3 separate regions of the Homo sapiens genome follow, and all the other regions are linked to region 3. The links come from fine-mapping of genetic effects on gene expression. A gene starts in region 3. Each other region holds a variant in brackets. All regions are shown on one strand. Distances are from middle to middle.

Region 1 (6,259 bases), 110 kb before region 3:
TCATAAGGGGCTTCCTCCTTCACTTGGTACTCATTCTGTCTCCTGCCACCCTGGGAAGAGGTGCCTTCCACCATGATTGTAAGTTTCCTGAGGACTCCTCAGGCATGCAAAACTGTGAGTCAATTAAACCTTGTTTCTTTATAAATTACCCAGTCTTGGGTATTTCTTCATAGCAGCATGAGAACAGACTAATACATCTTCTTCAGAACAAAAAGGCTGGGTAAGGGGGTGGGCACGGAGGTTCCCAGCAGTACTGTGCTCACGGCATTGTGCCAAGTGCATACTTGTCCTCCATCTGAGCCTCCACAACCCTAAGAGGAGATGTGGTCAGAAGCAACCCAAGGTTTTGCCAAGTGAAACTCCGTAAGGAGACAGAGCAAATTTCCAGATAGGCTGGGATCGGAGCCCACCCATGACTCCAGCTCTGTGTGTGTTTCCTCTGAGTCTTCCCTTGCATTGCTGTCCCAGAGAAAACACTCTGGAGCCCCCAGGAGGTGCCTCCTCTTGTGCTACTGCCCCTGGGGAGGGGGCTTCCTTCCCAAGTGGGCATGGGGCTATTGCTATCCCTGTTTATAAAAGAAGACACCAATTGTTGAGATGAGAGAGTGAGAGAGGAAAGAAGAGAGAGAGGGAGAGAGAGAGAGAGCACACAAGAGCAAGCAATGGAGGAGCAGCAACTGCTGCAGAGGGGGATGTTTTCATTGAATTTTCCATACGCTAGTCACTCGCCAGTGTGGAGATGATGCCAGGGAAGGTGGGTAATCATGTGAAACCAACATCACAAGATGGGGGTAGAGTCACTGAGCCCTGCTGTCTCTTAATGTTAGATGTTGAACACTTGGGCCAGTTGACTCAAACGTGATTTCGATCTTAAGTGTCCAGCAGTTTCCACCTGCGTAGAAGCTGCTGGCTCTAGGTCCTGCTATCGGGGGCTGTTCCTGGCATAGGCACTGGGGTTGGGGGTCCTCACAGACACCACGCTGGCTTGCTGTGTCCTCCTCTGGGGTGGGGCACAGACCTAGGATCCCCATGTGGATCACAGCACTGGGCACTCCGCCTATACTCCCTCCCAAGGCCGTCACATCAGAGCGCTCAGAGCTGCAGGGAGCTGAGCTCTGCAGAGTCCAGGGATCCACATCAGGGAGGCCAGCGAAGCCTAGAGGATCCTGCAGAGGGGAGGAGTAGCGGGCTGGGGAAGGTATGAGGAGATTTTCCAGAAAATCGCAGCTTATCCCTCTCTTCACAGAGATGCATCTCTTTCTGTGTGTGGTTGTGCTGTCTGCAGTCATATACATTGTATCCAAGGGGCTGGCAGTATTTTGATATAGTAACAGTGTGAATTTTGTTCTTGGTAATTCCTCTTTTAACCCAACTGCTTTTCAATTTAGACTTTGACGCTGAAACATTTTGGACTTTCCCTGGGGGGACCAAAGGAAGCAGTGCTTGCCTGTAGGTTCCTATGTGTGGAGGAACAACAGAGCCACTTCGGGTCGGGTGGATTGGGCATCTCTGGGTAGAGAAGGACTTTGCTTCCTTCCTTGGGATTGGAGTGGGAAGAGGCTCAGGGAAGCAGAAAATTCCTTGAGCCCCCTGTCTTCCCACCACCCCTGGCCTGACATAGTAGAATGGACCGGGCAGTGAGATAAATGAGAAAACCTTGGAATGTCCCAGACTGGGGCAGGAGAGCATCTGCAGACTTTCAGGCTTCTGAGAGGAGTACTTGCTGGCGAGAGAACAGTGCCCAGAGGGGAGCCTGGAGCCTCTGTAGGAGAACATCCTCTTAGACAGTGGAGACCAGAGACAACAATGGAGTGCTGGTCATCTCAGCAGCTCCCAGGAGCACCACAGGCCATGGCCAAGGACCAGACACCCTCCCTATGAAGTCCTTCAGAGCTCGGATACCACCCTGGTGAGAAACTTGGGAAGAAAACTGAACGCACTAGAGGAAAAGAGTATCATGCACATGAAATGCATGTGATTAAATTTTCTGGAATCAGCAGAATTGGGGCTTGAAATAGAAATTATGTCCAATTATAGAAAAGATTTTTTTTATAAAAACATACCTTCCATATTTTTTGAGTTACATCCCAGATTGACATCTTTGTGGCCTTTGTGGTCTTTGTGGCCTTGGAGATGAAAGTAAACTTGGTTTACCCCACCCCCCAATTCCACAGCCTGGCAGCTCAGCAAGCACTGTTTGAGCTTCACCGGGTATCTGGAGAGCAGCCTTCACTCTACGTTTTATGTTGAATCATTTCTTTAAATACAAACAGTGCTTGCCATTAGAATTTTTAAAATGCACTTTCTACCTTGCTTTTGCACTTACAATCTCACACTGTGTAATAATTTCATATAGAAATATTTTTGAAATGTACTGCCTTCTTCCCAGGTGAGTGAACAGGAGTTGACCCAGCAGGACCAACTCCTTGATGCCATGGCCATTGCCAGTTTGCTTTGTCCCTGTTCTGTGATGCCTGATGTTGAATGGAACTCCTAGCTGCTGCCAGCTGATCAGCTTGGTTAGGAGCAAAGTGAGCACAGTGCTTGGAAGCCCAGTAGTGGCCTCAGACCTCTTGGGCTATTCCACCACCCACTCAGACTCAGACCCCTCTGACATCCTTCAGACCCCAGGCTTGGTGGGCATCTGCAAGGCTTGCTGCAGAGCCTGATGCAAAATGAGCACGCCATAGATGATGGCTTGTTTCATTATTATTTATTGCTACCCAGGTCTAGACAAAGGCTATCAGAGGCAACAAAATAAGCGAGATCCTGTCACGTTTAAAAGGGAGAGAGATTATTAAATCACTACAAGGTTGAAGACATTTTTAGCTAGTCAATTTTATACAGTATTGATTGACTCCCATTTATGGAAGATGAGAGTATCAGTGCCATTTACATTTTTCCCCTGTATAACCTCTGACCAACTTTTCATTGTTATTTGTGTTTTATTTGATCTGGACATACAACATCCATATTCTGTTATATAAACAGGGTTCCTATATTTGTTCCATATTAGTTATAGATGTAAACAGATTCACTGCTCACCACCATTTTTT[A/TA]AAATCTCATTTCTTCATCCCTGAGTTTTTATTTTGATTCCTCTTTTGTCTAGATTTTTTTTTTCTTTTTGCAAAATACTGTTTCAGGGAAAGACTACTGGATTTGGTAATCTCTGAGCTTCTTATTTCATGCCTGCATAAATTGATCTATTGCCTAAGTGACATTAAAAGTCATCTTGGTTTCTATACTTAGATGGCATCTTGGCTGGATATTACGCCCACCACCATTTTTTAAATAATCATTTCTTCATCCTTGGATTTTATTTTGATTCCTTTTACGTCTAGATTTTTTTTTTTTTTTTTTTTTTGCAAAGTACTGCTTCAGGGAAAGACTACTGGATTTGGTAATCTCTGAGCTTCTTTTTTTTTCATGCTTGCATAAGTTTACCAATTGCCTAAGTGATATTAAAAGTCATCTTGGTTTCTATGCTTCGATGGCATCTTGGCTGGATATTATGATCTGCTATTTCCTTCAGGACTTGTAGACAATACTCCCTTGTCTTTGACATTGCTATTGCTGTGGATTCATATATATGCTTTTTACCTTTTTAGGTTATTTATTGTCTGTCAGAATGGCTGGAAAATTCTTTCCTTATTCTTTAATTTTAATAGTTATCTAGGAAATAAGACATTTCAGTATTATGTGCTTTATATAAAAATTTCCCCGATTAGAATGTGCATTCTTTTAATCTACAGACTATTTTTTTCTCCGCAATTTCAGAAACTTTGAAAAGAAGACATTATCCATTGCAAGTGTTAGGACAGGCTTTCATTCCTATTGTCTGTTTCCGCTCGCTGCTATAGTAGTGTCCTTTATCCACAGGAGATACATTCCAAGGCCCCCAATGGATGCCTGAAACCGAGGATAGTACCAAATCCTATGTATATAGTCATCCCCTCCGTATCCACGGGGGATTGGTTTCAGGATTCCCCTGAATACCAAAATTTGAGGATTCTCAAGCCCCTTAAACAAAATGGCATAGTATTGGAGTGTAATCTACAAACATCCTCTTTATACTTTAAATCAATTCTAGATTACTTATGATACCTAATATAAAGTAAATGCTGTGTAAATAGTTGCTGGACTATATTGTGTAGGGAATGATGAGAAGAAAAAAGTATGTATGTGTTCAGTACAGCTGCAACCATCCACTTCGTGTGTATCAATCAACTATCTACAGTTGGTTGAATCCACAGATGTGGAACCCATGGATATGGAAGGCCAACTGTGCTGTGTTTTTTTGATCTGATAACTGGGATGGCTAGTGAGTAACTAATGGGCAGGTCATATATACAACACAGATGCATGAGACCAAGGAGATGATTCATGTCCCAAATGGGATGGAGTGGGTTGGTGGGATTTCATTGCTGCTGTTCAGAACAGTGCACAGTTTAAAACTTATGAATTGATCATTCCTAAAATTTTCAATTTAATATTTTTAGACTGTAGTTGATCAGAGGTAATGGAAACCTCAGAGAAAGGAAAACTACTGTATCTTTTCTGCTCTCTTTCCTTTCTTCATCTACGTTCATTATCCAGTCACTTAACCTCACTGAGCCTGCTGCCTCATATAAAGTTGGAATAATATACCTATCTCAGGACAGCTCCTAGGATTAAAAGACTTAATATATGTAAAGCTCTTAAGAAACAGTGCTCAGACCAGAGCAAGTCGTGGAAAAGTGGTTGTGATTTTTATTATTATGGATTTTTAACATTATTATTACTCGTCATAGTGAAATGGTTCATTGCAAGGACTCTGGAGCCAGACTGCCACATATTAGCTGTGTGACCTTGGGAAGATACTTAACCTCTCAGTTTCTTGTTTTTGTCCTTTGTAAAATGCAGTTAATACTTGTCCTTACCTCAGGATTATTATGAGGATTAATAGTTAGTAAAGTGCTTAGAACAGTACTGGCATGCAGTAAGTGTGCTGTATGTGTTGTTCAGTAAACATTTCCTGAAGCTTTTCCTGCAGAAAAGCAATTATTTTCAGTAGTGTTTATTCTGTTTCTTGCTGTTTCTAATGTGTTATCTGTAATGATGTTTTGATATTAATTTGCTTCTGTATGTCTATAATGTTTTTTCACTTCGTTCTGTTTTATCATTCTGTCACTGAGCTCTCTTGTTATTGACTTTACACCCTTTTAAGTTGTACTTTAAAGCAATTCTGGAACATTTCTTTTCACTCCTTGAGTGATGTTTTCTTCTAGGTAGGGTTCTTTGTTCTTGAATGCTCTTTCCCTTTTCTTCATTGTTAGTGTGTGTGTACGTGTGTGTGTGTTAGTGTATACTGTGCATATCTGTGCTCCTTTGTGTAAGTGAATCTTTTTTTTTTTTTTTTAATCTTGCCTTCTGCTCAGGCAGCATTGTCCAGAGCTTCTGTCTGCTCCACTCAACACTGTGGTGACTTTCTTCTTTGTCTGAGGCACCTTACTTCCCCCTTGAGAGCCTCTGTTTCACTGGATTACTGCAGCCTGAGGGCATGGCACAGGGATGGATAGGGTACAGGCTCTGAGAGCCCTGGGCTGGGGCTTGCCTCAGATGGCTGAAGTGTTGACACTGGGAAAAACACCTGCATGAACCTGTTCCCCATTACTAGAGGTGGGGTTAGGGGAGGGTTAGACCTTTACTCATGTCCCAGTAGCCAGCAACCACTTCCATTTTTTTCAGTAAGAAAGGACAAGACCCCCACTCCTTCAACTCCAGTTTTCTTCACTCTGGGCTTGAGGGTGCTCGTGAGAATGCTCAGCGTTTTTCAGACTTGCCAGTGTGTTCTTTGGGGTGGGGCAGGTTAGCCTCGGTGAGGTGGGCGGCTTCCTGTCTGGGTGTGTAGAGCACCAGCTTGTGGCCTGCTCTTCCTTTGGTTGCTGTTGGAGAAACTTTTTTTGGAGGGGGTGGGGCCTTTAATGTATGCTTCCACTTGTTTTTTAAAAAAACATAGTAAATTAATTTTCTTTTATTTTTCCCCAACTTTACTGAGATATAGTTGATAGTTAAACATCACATGGGTTTAAGTTGTCCAACTTGAGGATCTGATACACATATATGCTGGGCTTTCAGTAGCTGCTGCTTATGTGGTTGGAGACTGGGCTCAGAAGCCCTGTGACCCAGTTGCTTTTAGCCAGCTTAACTGTCTTTTGATTAATCCTTTTCTTTTTTTGTCACTGCCTCCCCAGCAATCTTTAAGAGACTACTATGTTAT
Region 2 (6,259 bases), 70 kb after region 3:
TGGCATTTTCAGTTAAAAAAAAAAAAAAAAACATTCCTCCTAGGAGGTGTATAGTGATACTCATTGTGATTTTAATTTGCTTTTCCCTGATAACTAATAATAATGATCATCTTTTCTATGATTATTTTGTCATTCTCATATTTTCTTTGGTGAAGTGTCTATTAATGTCTTTTCTCATTTAAAAAATTGGGCTATTAGTTTTCATATTTTTGAGTTTTGAAAGTCTTTTTGTGTAATTTGTATGCAAGTTTTTTATTAGATATGGGATTCGTAATTATTTTCTCCCAATCTGCAAATTGTCTTTTTAACTTTTAAAGTCAGATAAAGTCCAATTGATCAATTTATATGTGCTTTGGGGAAAGGATTGATATTTTTTATTGCATGTAAATAACTGATTGTTCTAGAACCACTTATGAAAAAGACTATGTTTTTTCCAAGGAAGTACTTTTGCACCTTTGTAAAAACAATCACGTATATGTCGGTTTAACTCTAGCCTCTTTATTCTGTTCAATTGACATTTGTGTCTGTCCTTTTGATAGTATTCCATGTCTTCATTAATGTAGTTTTATAACTGAGTATTGAATCAGTTATTAAAATTCCTCAAAGTTGGTTCTATTTTGTAAAATCTGTTTTGGCTATTCTAGTTCCTTTGCCTTTCCACACAAATCTTAGAATCACTTTTCCTATTTCTAAAAATTCTGCCAGAATTTTCGTTGAAATTGGGTTGTATATATGTTTTAATTTAGACAGAAATGAATTCTTAACAATATTAAGTCTTCTAATCCATGAACAAGGCATATCTTAACATTTAATTAGGATATCTTTCATTTCTCTTACCAGTATCCTATAATTTTTACCATAAAGGTCTTTCACATTTTTGCTATAGTTATACCTAAGTATCATATTTTTTGGCATTATTATACATTTATAAATTATATTAACATTTTCTATTTCCAATTTTTTCATTGCTATTGCATAGAAATGCAATTGATTTTTATATATTGACCTTGTGTCGAGCAACATAGCTAAATTCACTTATTACTTCTAGTGGTTGTTTTGGTTAATTCTTTATCGTTTTCTATGCAATCAACAATTGCAAATAGAGGGAGCTTTTTTTCCTCCTTACAACCTTATGCCATCTATTTTTCTTGCTGTATTGTATTGGGTAAAGCATTAATTATAATGTTGAATAGGAGTTATAACAGTAGATATTGTTTATTTATGATATAGTGGGAAAACATTCACTCCATTATTTTATTCCAAATTATAGACAGACTTTAGCGAGATGAATGTTGCAATATTGTATAACATAATCACATACATTCTATCATTTTTCTCATATTCTATTGAATGGAAAGAAGTTACAGGTCCAACCCACACTCAAGAGGAAGGGATCCCGCAAAAGCATGAACACTCAGAGGAGTGGATTGAGGGGCCACCTGAAGAATCTGTGTATCATAGCAATGTTTGCTTTGGGATTTATAGTTAGCATCTTGTACCTATCACTGTTTACCCATAAGTAATATCACACCCTTTCCCACATGATATAAGAAATTTGTAATGTTATACTTCTGTGTTTCCCTCCTGGCTGTTGTGCTGTTGTTGCCATACATTTTACTTCTATGTATTTTATACATTTCACAATACATTGCTATTATTTTTATTTTAAGCAATCAATTATGTTCTAAAGATATTTTTAAAATGAGAAGAATATATATATATATATATTTAACTGACATATTTATTATTTCTGGAGTTCTTTGTTCTTTTACATAGAGTTTTTCATCTGATGTCATTTTCTTTCTAACAGACTTTCCATAATATTTTTTGTAGTGCAGGGTAGCTAATGATAAATCCTTTCAGCTTTTGTTTGCCTATGAAAATCTTTGTTTTCTTTTTTTTCTTGAGACAGGGTCTTGCTCTGTCTCTGAGGCTGGAGTGCAGTGGTGCAATCATAGCTCACTGCAGCCTCGACCTCTTTGGGCTCAAATGATCCTCCTGCCTCAGCTTCCCCAGCAGCTGGGACTACAGGAACGCATCACCACACCCGGCTAATTTTATTTTATTTTTTTTGTAGAGATGGGGTTTCACAATGTTGCCCACACTAATCTTGAACTCCTGGCCTCAAGCAATCCTCCCACCTTGGCCTCCCAAAGTGTGGGGATTATAGGCATGAGCCACTGCACCCAGGCAGTTTTGTTTTCGAAAGATATTTTTGCCGAGTTTTTTTTTTTTAATAGTAAGTTGACTTCTTTTCTTTCAGTACCTTAAAGATGTCCCACTATTATTAACTTGTGTTCATTTTTACCAATGGGAAGACTTCTGTCATTCTTACCATTTTGTATGTAATGAGACTTTTTTTACTGGCTGGTTTTAAGATTTCTCTCTATCACTGGTTTTAATATTTTCAACTATGATGCATTATGGTGTGGTTTTCTTCATATTTCTTGTATTTGTAGTTCCTTGAGTTTTAGGATCTGTGGGTTTCTAGTTTTTATCAACTTTGAATATTTTTGGCAATGATTTCATCAAGTATGTGTTTTTCTATTTCTACTCTCTTTTTATCTTCTTCACATATTCTAGTTATACATAGATTAGGTTTCTTGAAGTTTTTCCATAACTCACTGATTCGCTTTTCATTTTTTATCCCTTTTTTCTCTCTGTTTTTCATCTTGTCGTTTCTATTTTTATATTTTCAAGTTTACCCCTTTTTCATCTGTAATGTATAATGTACTTTTAATCCCATTCATTATATTTTAAATCTCCAACATTATGTTTTTTTGCACCTAGGAATGTTATTGGAGTCCTTTACTTATGCTCCATATCTCTGCTTACCATGCTCACGCGTCCCTTTTTTTCTTATGCATGTGGAATGTAGTTATAAGAACTGATTTAACATCTTTGTCTACTAATTATATTGTCTATGTCACTTCTGGGTCTATTTTTATGGACGGAATTTTCTCCTCTCATTAAAATGTGAACACAATATGGCTTTATTTCTTTCTAATAGGTGTTCCCCCTTGCATTGTTATGGGATGATTAGATTGCAGTGTTATCAATGCTCTCATAAAGCAGCGGGAGCACCAGGAAAGCAAAGCTGATCCATCCTGAGGATCGAAGAAGATTTCCCAGAGGAGCACGGCATGTGAGCTGAGTGACCCAGAGTAAGCGTAGACAAAGGGGAAAAAA[C/A]AAGCAAAGGAAATTCCCAGTGGACAGAAGCACATACACAAAGCACGGAAATGAGAGAAGGGTACACTCCAGGGACACCAGGGAACTCACTGTAGCTGAACTGTGGGTAGGAAATGGAAAGTGACCACGCCAGACTAGCACATGTGCCCAGCCCATGAGAACAGTTGCGCATTTGGCCGGAGAGATTGAGCTTTGCTTTATTGGCCATGGGAAGACTTTAGAAGGTGTTTTTAATTGTGGTAAACATACTTAACAGAAAATTTACCATTTTAACCATTTTAAATGTACAATTTAGTGAAATTAAGTATAATTACATTCTTTTGAAACTATCATCACCATTCATCTCCAGAGTTTTTTCACCTACCCAAATTGAAATTCTACATCCTCACTGTCTTAGTCTATTTCATGCTGCTGTAACAGAATACCTGAGACTGGGTAATTTATAAAGAAAAGAAATTTATTTCTTACAGTTCTGGAGGCTGGAAAGTCCACAATCAAGGCATCGGCAGGTTTGGTGTCTGGTGAGGGCTGCTCTCTGCTTCCAGGTTGGCTCCATGAATGCTGGGTCTCACATGCTAAAAAATAGGAAGGCAAACTAGTTGAACACTGTGTGAAGCCTCTTTTATAAAGGTCTTAATCCCATTAACCAGGGAGAAGCCCTTATGGCCTAATCACCTCTAAAAAGCCCCGCTTCTTAATCTGACTACATTGGCAACATCTGCATTTTGGAGGGGACACATTCAAACCAAAGCCTTCCAATCCTGGCCCCGAAATACCTGCCAAAATTCATGACATGCATAATACATTTGTTTTATCCCATCACCCCCCAAAGTCTTCACGCATTTCAGCATGAACTCAAAAGTTCAAAGTCCAGAGTCTCATCTAAATTGGATATGGGTTAGGCTCAAGGCACGGTTCATCCTGAGGCAAATTTCCCTTTAGCTGTGAGTCTGAAATCAAGCAAGTTATGGGATTCCAAAATACAATCATGGGACAGGCACAGGACAGACATAGGAGAATAGGCAAGAAGAAAGGAGTAACAGGTACCAAGTTAGTCTAAACCCAACAAAGAGAACACTAAATCTCAAGACTTGAGAATTATCTTCTTTGACTCCATGTCCTGCCTTCAGGACACAATGGGGTAAGGGCTGGGTCTCCAAGGCTTCTGGGGACCCTCTCTCTATTCATGCTGTAGCAGATCTCACAGGCTGGAGTTAAGTGCCTGCTTCTCTCCCAGGCTGCCATTGCACATTGGGGCCCCTATACCTCTGAAGTCTTGGGAGCATGCATGGAACCCTGTGCTGCCAAATACTGAAACCCACACTTTCCTTCACATTCTGCCATCAGTAACTGGGAGTCTCATTCCTGTTTATGAAGGAAACATTATCTCCCATGAATGTCGTGTTTACTGGAAGGAGTAACTTATTAACAATAGCTAACATGCAATGAGTGTCTTCTGGGAATGAGTGTCTTACAGGAGTGAACTGACTTGGTCCTTATAAAGAGCACTATCAAATAGATGCTATTATTCCAATATTAGAGTGAGGAAATAAGAGCTAGGGAAGCAAGGGCTTGCCTAAGGTCTCACAACAAGTGGAGGTGGAGCTGGGATTTGTCCAGGCAGATGACCCCTGACTTCACCACACAGATTTATGGAATTTGGCCATATGGTATCCATTAGCTGTTGAGACTCATCTCCTATCTCGACACTAGAGTGTACCTTAGGATTGGAGCACAAGGTGGGCCAGTCTTATAGGTTTGGCAAGTGTAGACATAGACACACTGTTCTGTGAGGAAGGCCTGGGCTGAAATTCCTCAATAATAATCTTTGACAGCCAGAGGACCCACCCCTGGACAGCATGTGCACTGCAGGTACAAGGTAGGGGAATTATGTTATGGGAGCAGTTGGCTGATGTGACACACACTTCTGCCTCATGAGTAGAGGGCTGCTTGGCCCTGCAGTTGTCACAAGAGGCAAGAAACTTCTGTTACTTGGAGAAACAGGGCCCTTTGGCAGTCTATTGCCTCCATTCTCCACCTGCCACCAAGCAGGTCTGCAGGATCCGGCCTCCTTTGGCAACCTCACTCCCTGCAATGCCCCCAGCCTATGTATCCTCAATGCTTCATCACACCAGAACCTTCCTGGAGCCTGTCTTTTTCCTAATTTCATCTTCTGTCACTGCCGTGGTGTCCAGGTTTTGCTCACCCTAAACTGGAAGGCTCTTTCCACCCTTTCTCTATTGCCATTGTCCTATTCTTTCCTACTATGTGGCTTTCCAGATTCTGCCAGGCGTAGGAAAGGAACACATGTCTTGGCGTCTGACACATTTGGGTTGGGAACTTGACTTTGTCACTTACCAGCTGAGTGACCCTGCATGTGACACTGAAATTCTCCAGTCTCAGTTTCCACATCTGTAAAATAGGGTAGTCCCATCTAACTTGCAGTATGGTAAGGTTGTGTATAAAAGGCAGCACCATGTCTGGTACATGCGGTTGATAATCACGAAGGAATGGTGATGATCCACTATAGATTGACCAACTGAAATGTGGCAAATGCACATTTATTTATTCATGCAAATGGAAACACAGATATTATATGCATTTGATGAGGTTGAATATTCACACATGCCACTGCCCAGATGGACAAAGCAAATGTTGCCTCTTTATCTACAACCTATTCTGTCCCATGAGCTCTCACCTGGCCTGGTAGTGGGAAAACTTACACTGGTTTAATTAGTGTTCTTTTGGTTGAAAATGTATTCCTTCAGGTTAATGATAAGACTCTCATACTCCATGCTCCTCCTTACCCACCCCGAGATGTGGCCTGTGTGCACAGCAGAGCTCACTGTGTCCTCATGTTAGTTGGGAGGTAGACATGCACTTCCTTGGGGCTCTTGTTTTGTTCTCTTGGTGTTCACTGCCCCATGCCTGCTTGGTCACAGGTCCCATTGTAAGCATTGGCTATTGCTTGGCTGGTGAGTTTACGGAATTAGCATTGGCATTGCTTGACTGGCCAGGTCGTGGACCTTTTTCTCAAGGGATGCTCAAGGCAGGTGGGCACCTCTGCTTG
Region 3 (6,259 bases):
TGCCCCTCACTCGTCATGTGATGAGGACATGTCCTTTCACTTCTGGGGCACGTTTCCTCACGGGGGTGGGGTGCTGACAGGAAATGGACAAAAGCATCAACCGACACTTCCCCGAAAAGTAATACAACCTCTTATGGAAGTAAGAAAACATGCTCAGTCTCACTTAATTACAGAGGCTCATTCCAAAGTGACAGCGTTTGTTTTGTTGTTTTACCTCTCAGTTTGGCCAAGATAAAAAATGCAGTGTGAGTGAGGACGCAGGGAAATAGTGACTTTCATAGGCTATTTGTGAGCATGAGAAACCGGTGTGACCTTTAGGAGGGTAGTTTCTTAAGATCTACTAACATTTTAAATGAATACACACTTTGTCCCAGAAATCAAATGCTGAGGTGGGAGAATTTATCCTAACAGTTTACAGACACATGCATGTAAAATCCTCCTTACTCATTGTCACAGGACTGCTGTGTGTGGTTTAAAAAAATTAAATGAAGTCTGCATACAGCCTAAATGCCCATCAGCAGAGGAACTGATTAAAGAAAATAACAAGGTATAACCTTTAAGAGATATTCTGATGGAAAAAAAACAAGATGAAGTAAAATATATAAAATGCATTTTTATTATGTAAAATAAGAAATATTTGTATCAGCAAATTTACTTCTAGAAGGATTATCCTCAATAAATAAAGTAATTGCCATTGAGGTAGGGAGAAGGTGTCTTTCTCCTATTTTTAACTCTTCATTCACTGTTAACTTTACTGTTTGTTTGGTTTTGTATTTAGAGCGTGCTTGTTGGCCCACTGGGTATGCTCAGTTACTGGAAGATGTTTTGGCTGTGGCCTCAGACAGGCACTTGAGGCATAGATGTACATACAGGTCTGCCACCTGAAGAGGCAAACTGACTTGACTTGGCCCAACCTCTCACCTCTGTTGAGGGGACCTCTTCCTACTCACTGCAGATGGGTTCACTTGTTCCCACCACAAGCGCAGAATGCCTTGTACTTCACAACCCTTTGCTCCCCAGGGAGCTCTGCAAGTCCCCAGAAATACTTGCCCAACCACGGGCACCCTTGGAAGGGTCCAGCTGCTGACCACCAGCATCATGTGACTCCCAGTGCCAGTGACATCTGGAGGAATTGAGCAATGGCTGAGGTGGAATTTCATTTGGCACTTAATGCAATCCTCTGCTTCTGCCAGAGGCGGTGAATTCTATATAAAGCTGCCAAACCTGGCCGTCTTCTCACTGAGCCTTGACCCCTTCCATCCAAGGGCAAGGCAATGGATTGCTGTGCATGACTCACGCGCAGTAACTGTGGCATTGGGGCCTAGCCCAGCTGAGCTGAGCAGAGCAGGCCGGCCTGGCGGAAGTGGGTCCTCTCCGCTCTAACCTCTGGCTCTGATGAGCAGCTACATAAACTGAGACAGGATATAGACACATCCTGCCTGAGTTAGCAGCAAGAAATAGCCGCCCCCCACCCCCCCTGCAGTTCTCGCACAGCAGGGATCCTGCCATAAATCAATCCGAAGTCTAATGTGGAATGGCTTGCAAGCAAGGGCTGCACCGCTGTTTGTCTCCCAAGGCAAGTGTTGAAGGTCTGAAACCTGAGTCCTGGAGAACTGCTTGGGCTGCTGGGCTGGGCTGGGCACGGGGGCGGGGGTCAGGCAAGCCCATCCTCTTCAGACATGAGAATGCCTCTCAGCCTCACCTCCTCAGTGACTGAATTGGAATAATGACAGTGGCTCCTGTCCCTTTAACCCAGGACCTGCCGTATACACACACATAAACATATGCTCAAGTTACGTGCTCCGGGAACCACAGTCTCATGTGCAATTATATAAACATGCCCAGCACGGATCCAGCACTTAGGATGTGTCAGACTCCGTGCCGGGACATTTATACGCACTTCGTGCTGCTGGATGAGTTATCTCCTGTTATTATTCCTACTTTCCTACTTTGCAGATGAGGAAACTGGAGCTAAGAGAGGCTGCCTTGTTTATAGGCAGTGCAGATGATCCCAGTGCAGACTGAGGGGCCTCGCTCCCAAGCACCACTGATGCCTGCGCACTCCCAGGCTGACGCAAGCACAACCACAGGCACATGGAGTGCCGTGTACACACGTAGACCGAAGCAGCACTCCTCCACGCCAAGCTCCAAGCTCAGGCGGGGTGAGGGGTGAGGCCTCACAACCCCCTGGATTTCAAAGACTTATAAAAGAGTTGGTGTCTCCAATACCCATATCATTATCATATCAATAAGGTATCATTGTCACATGATAGGCTCAGGGTATCTCCTCTCTGACAGACTCTAAGAATCAGACCGCGGCAGGGTGGGGGTAAGAGGGATGTACATTACGTTTTTTGGTAAAATCAAATGGTAGTTTTTATTGCAAAAGTCCAACGGCAGAGGAAGAGGGCAGAGAGAGGCCCAGCAATGTTTCCAAGCATCTACAAAGACTTTCATCACAGATGATTTCCTCTCAGCAAGAAAACGTGATGGTTTAAAAGAGAAAACCAGCAGCGAGGAATTACAAATCCCCAAAGGATCCAGGCCGCAGGATTCCCTCGCATCTGTGTGCCTTTGCGGCGCCCAGCGGAGCGAGCAAGTCCCTGGGCAAGGCTGGAGTTGCCTGGAGTTCACCGGAGCCTGGCCGGTCGGACCCTGGCTGGGGAGCAGCACAGAAGCAACTTGTGATGTGAACTCTCACCTAACTGTTCTTTAGGGAGACAATTCTGGCCCCACACATTTCACATGCCCCGCACAAAGAAACAGAAAGCGGGCGACACGCCCTGGGAGGGCGGGCTGGCGGCTTCTCCAGCTCGGAGCGCGTGGAGGCTGCGCGTAGGGGTCCGGGACGCGGGACAGGGACTCCGCGCAGCCCAGGCGCCGGGGAACCGGGGCTGGAGTCGGGGATCTGAGCCCAGCGGACGCCTCCTCCGCCTGGAGGCCCGGCACGGACCGGGACACCAGGGCGTCCGTGGCCGTGGCTCGGCCCCTGGCTGCTGCGGGCCGCGGCCTCCAGTGGGTCCCCAGGACCCTTCCCCACGGCGGGTACTCACCGAGGCTGAGAGGCCACGCCGTGCTGTTGGGGCTTCTCGTCGACCACATTCCTGGGCGTCAGCCCGGGCAGAGACCGCGGGGACTGGCCAGGCCGGGCCAGGCCGGGCCGGGGGAGGGTCGCGCTCCCGGGCTCCTGACCCTCGGCGGCGAGAGGAAGCGGCACCTGGGTCACACTCCTCCCGCGCGGGCCGAGGGGAGGGGCTCTGGCCCGGAGATAGGCAGACTTCATTTATTTTTTTTCTGCAGACTTGGCTGGTGGGGTTTCCACCCCCTTTTTTTTTTTTAAACACACACCCGCCCACTTCTGAACTCTTCTTTGCTCCAACTTTCCTGCGCAAGAACCACGCTTTTCTAACCGTTTCTCTTTCCATCTGCCACTACCGGATACAGAGGTTGTGGTTGAGAATTCCCCCTGGAGTGCAGGGAAAACTCCCCAATGTGACATGATGGCCTGGCCCAGCACTGTCGGGGATGGTGACCAAATAGGGCAGACCTGTGTTGAAATCTTGGCTGGCTGCGCGGCCGCTGGATAGCTGGGCGGCCTCTCTCAGCTGCGGGGCATTTGTCCCTGGAGAGAGTCCCTGTCTTGTTGGCCTTTGGGGGCCCTGTACTCATGGATGGGCTGTTGAGCAAAGATCATTCCAAAACAGGAAGAATTGCTGGACAAGAGTCGTGATTTGTTCCCATTGCTTTTGTCTGAAGCTGCCAGACACAGTGCAGTTTGTGAATTCGCTCTACTTTTGCCATGAAAATCTCCACGTGGATTTCGATACATACCTTTGTTGGTTAAATGCAGTCAAATGGCACCACCTACAAAAAATGTATCATAGCATTATCTGCCCCTTCTGCCCAGAGACAAGGGCAGGGAACTTGAGGCCCTTGTTTTAAATCCCCACCCAGGGGAACACCCTGTGCTTCTCCTGTGTGATGTCTGAACCTTCCTGTGCTGCTTTTCATTGTTTACTTTATAGTTCCCCAAGCACTTTTGTGACGCCCACCTCTCCCCTACCTTCTGCCATTAAGGCCTATCCTGCACAATCCGGAGAGCCAGGCCAGCTGTCTGTACAATGTATGGGCGGTGCCTTTGGGACTGTCATCTGCATTGAATACAATGAGAGGCTGCGCCCTGGAGATTTGCAACACAGAGGCTTTGCTCACCTCTAGCCGGGCTGCACAAACTCCAGGCCTTCTTGACGCAGTGGGAAAGCACTCATGATTCACTTTAGTTAGATCATGAAGAACCCCCGATGCTGATAGATCTTTACTCCAACTGCCATGTGCAGCACAGCCATGTTGAATTGAAATAAACTACTCACAGAATGCCTTTGGCCTGGTGGGGAAGCCCTGAGTCTTGATTTCCTCATCTATAAAATGGAGGCAAGAACACCTGCATTCCGGGGTTTTACAGAGGCAGTGATTGTAGAATCACAGTGGGAACAGAAAAGGCATTTAATAAACAGCAATGAGTAATGATTAATTTATTTTTATTTATTTATTTATTTATTTTTCTGAGACGGAGTTTTTGCTCTTGTTGCCCAGGCTGGAGTCCAACGGCGTGATCTCGGCTCACCACAACCTCCGCCTCCTGGGTTCAAGCAATTCTCCTGCCTCAACCTCTCGAGTAGCTGGGATTACCAGCATGTGCCTCCACGCCTGGCTAATTTTGTATTTTTAGTAGAGACGGGGTTTCTCCATGTTGGTCAGGCTGGTCTCGAACTCCCGACCTCAGGTGATCCACCCACCTTGGCCTTCCAAAGTGCTGGGATTACAGGCGTGAGCCACTGCACCCGTGATTACTTTAACAGTTTAACTTTTTTTTTTGGTAATACATACACATACGTCTACGTGGAACAGTAGTCCCGCTCCTCTGTCCTGAGAGAAAATAACTTTAATTATCTGAAATGCAGCTGGAAAGTTGGAAAGAAGCAGAAAGTTCTGCCAGGTAACAACGGACAAGTCATTAGGTCATTGCAGCACACTTAGAGAAGTCACTTTTACAGACTCATTTAGAACCTACTGGCCTTAGACGTAATCATAAGAGATTTCCTTAATTTCTTAGGGTAAGACAGGTTGAAGGCATCAAAATGTTGCAGAGAATTCCTTACAGAAAATAAGCCAAAAATTAATAAACTAACGAACTAAACAGTGAAAATTGAAAGCCCCACAAACTGCAGAGGTCAGATACAAGAACGAAGTAGCATTTGTTACAGAACTAAAGCAATCTCAGCTCCAGCCATCACTGGAGGATGTGACAGTTCCTTGCGCTATTAAAGACCACAGGGCTTTGGAACTCAATCTGGGTTAGTTACTCTACTGCCTACTAGCTGCGTAACCTTCAGCATTTCACTTTCTTTCTCTGAGCCTCATTTTTCTCAGCCTGGAAATTGGAGCAATCTGCAAAGTTAGGCTGTTGTGAGTAATATATTCGATAATAATTAAAGAGGTAATTACAATGAGAGTACACTGGAGTTACTTAAAGATATTGGCCCCCTTCCTCCTCTAACACATACTTTGTTCATAGTAAGGACCCCAAGTCATTTGAAAAAGAAAGTAAATAGTGTGTCTTAGTGTGTAGCAAATTAGCTAACAGGGAAACATTTGACATATTTTAGAAAATTTAACTATGAAAGTGTCTAATGTTAAATAAATGACTCTTAAGAAGGGAAAATAATTATGTGAAAAATTTAATTATATGGTAACAGTCTGACATAAGTCAAGAAATGTATTATTAGTGTGTCTTCATGTGTTGGATATTTATTAATGAAGTTAAAAAAAAAACTCAGCTATATCTTGCAATAATAAACCAGTTCTTATCTTGTCTAGTTCCCATAAATACTCTTAAACGGAGTATTGCCAAGAGTCCATTGTAAAGATGAGAACCCAGAAGTTCAGCACAGTGACAAGAACTTGCTCTGCAGTGCAGCCGGGATGGACGGTTCTAGCTGTGTCTTCATTGACTGTCTGTGGCTGATACAAGCTGCAGAGCCCTCCAAGATGTGAGATGGTATGATCCAGTCCTGGAGATGAATTTTCTCTTCCTCTTCAGGGAAGAAACTGCTCATGGGAAACTGCCTTCCAAATCCTCAGTGCTAGTTCCTTATTGGGAGTGGAGTTGGCGGTCCCCTGCTGCTGTTGCTGTCTCCTGGGTGAGCCCTTACAGATGGTGGTAGGTAGATGTTGCTTGGGCCTTTAATGAAAGGTTTTG

Direction of the effects. Alleles are on the strand shown, and positions count from the first base shown. SD is a standard deviation of normalised expression in the study named. Not every link is listed here.
In carriers of allele TA in region 1, the expression in naive CD4 T cells of the gene that starts at base 3,208 in region 3 tends to be higher than with A alone (moderate effect, 0.70 SD a copy in Schmiedel 2018).

What was found. PIP is the estimated chance that this variant, and not a neighbour inherited with it, causes the effect.
Region 1: its variant is the best candidate, but not a certain one, in a credible set for the expression of GYPC in naive CD4 T cells (Schmiedel 2018, PIP 0.70).
Region 2: its variant is the best candidate, but not a certain one, in a credible set for the expression of GYPC in lung (TOPMed, PIP 0.85).

The regions. Positions count from the first base shown.
Region 1 is chr2:126,761,977-126,768,235 of GRCh38, reverse strand. No RefSeq gene overlaps it. Among named protein-coding and RNA genes, the nearest start is that of GYPC, 110 kb to the right of the region's middle. The variant A/TA (reference allele first, on the strand shown) is at 3,057.
Region 2 is chr2:126,583,501-126,589,759 of GRCh38, reverse strand. The region is part of intron 2 of LOC105373602 (a long non-coding RNA gene); the gene reads left to right. Among named protein-coding and RNA genes, the nearest start is that of GYPC, 70 kb to the left of the region's middle. The variant C/A (reference allele first, on the strand shown) is at 3,190.
Region 3 is chr2:126,653,107-126,659,365 of GRCh38, reverse strand. It overlaps GYPC (glycophorin C (Gerbich blood group)), which reads right to left and starts at 3,208. Exons shown (of 4, transcript NM_002101.5): 1 at 3,054-3,208. The coding sequence starts at 3,102. RefSeq lists enhancers at 1,509-1,738, 1,929-2,178, 1,636-2,475, 3,269-3,558 and a silencer at 2,809-3,178.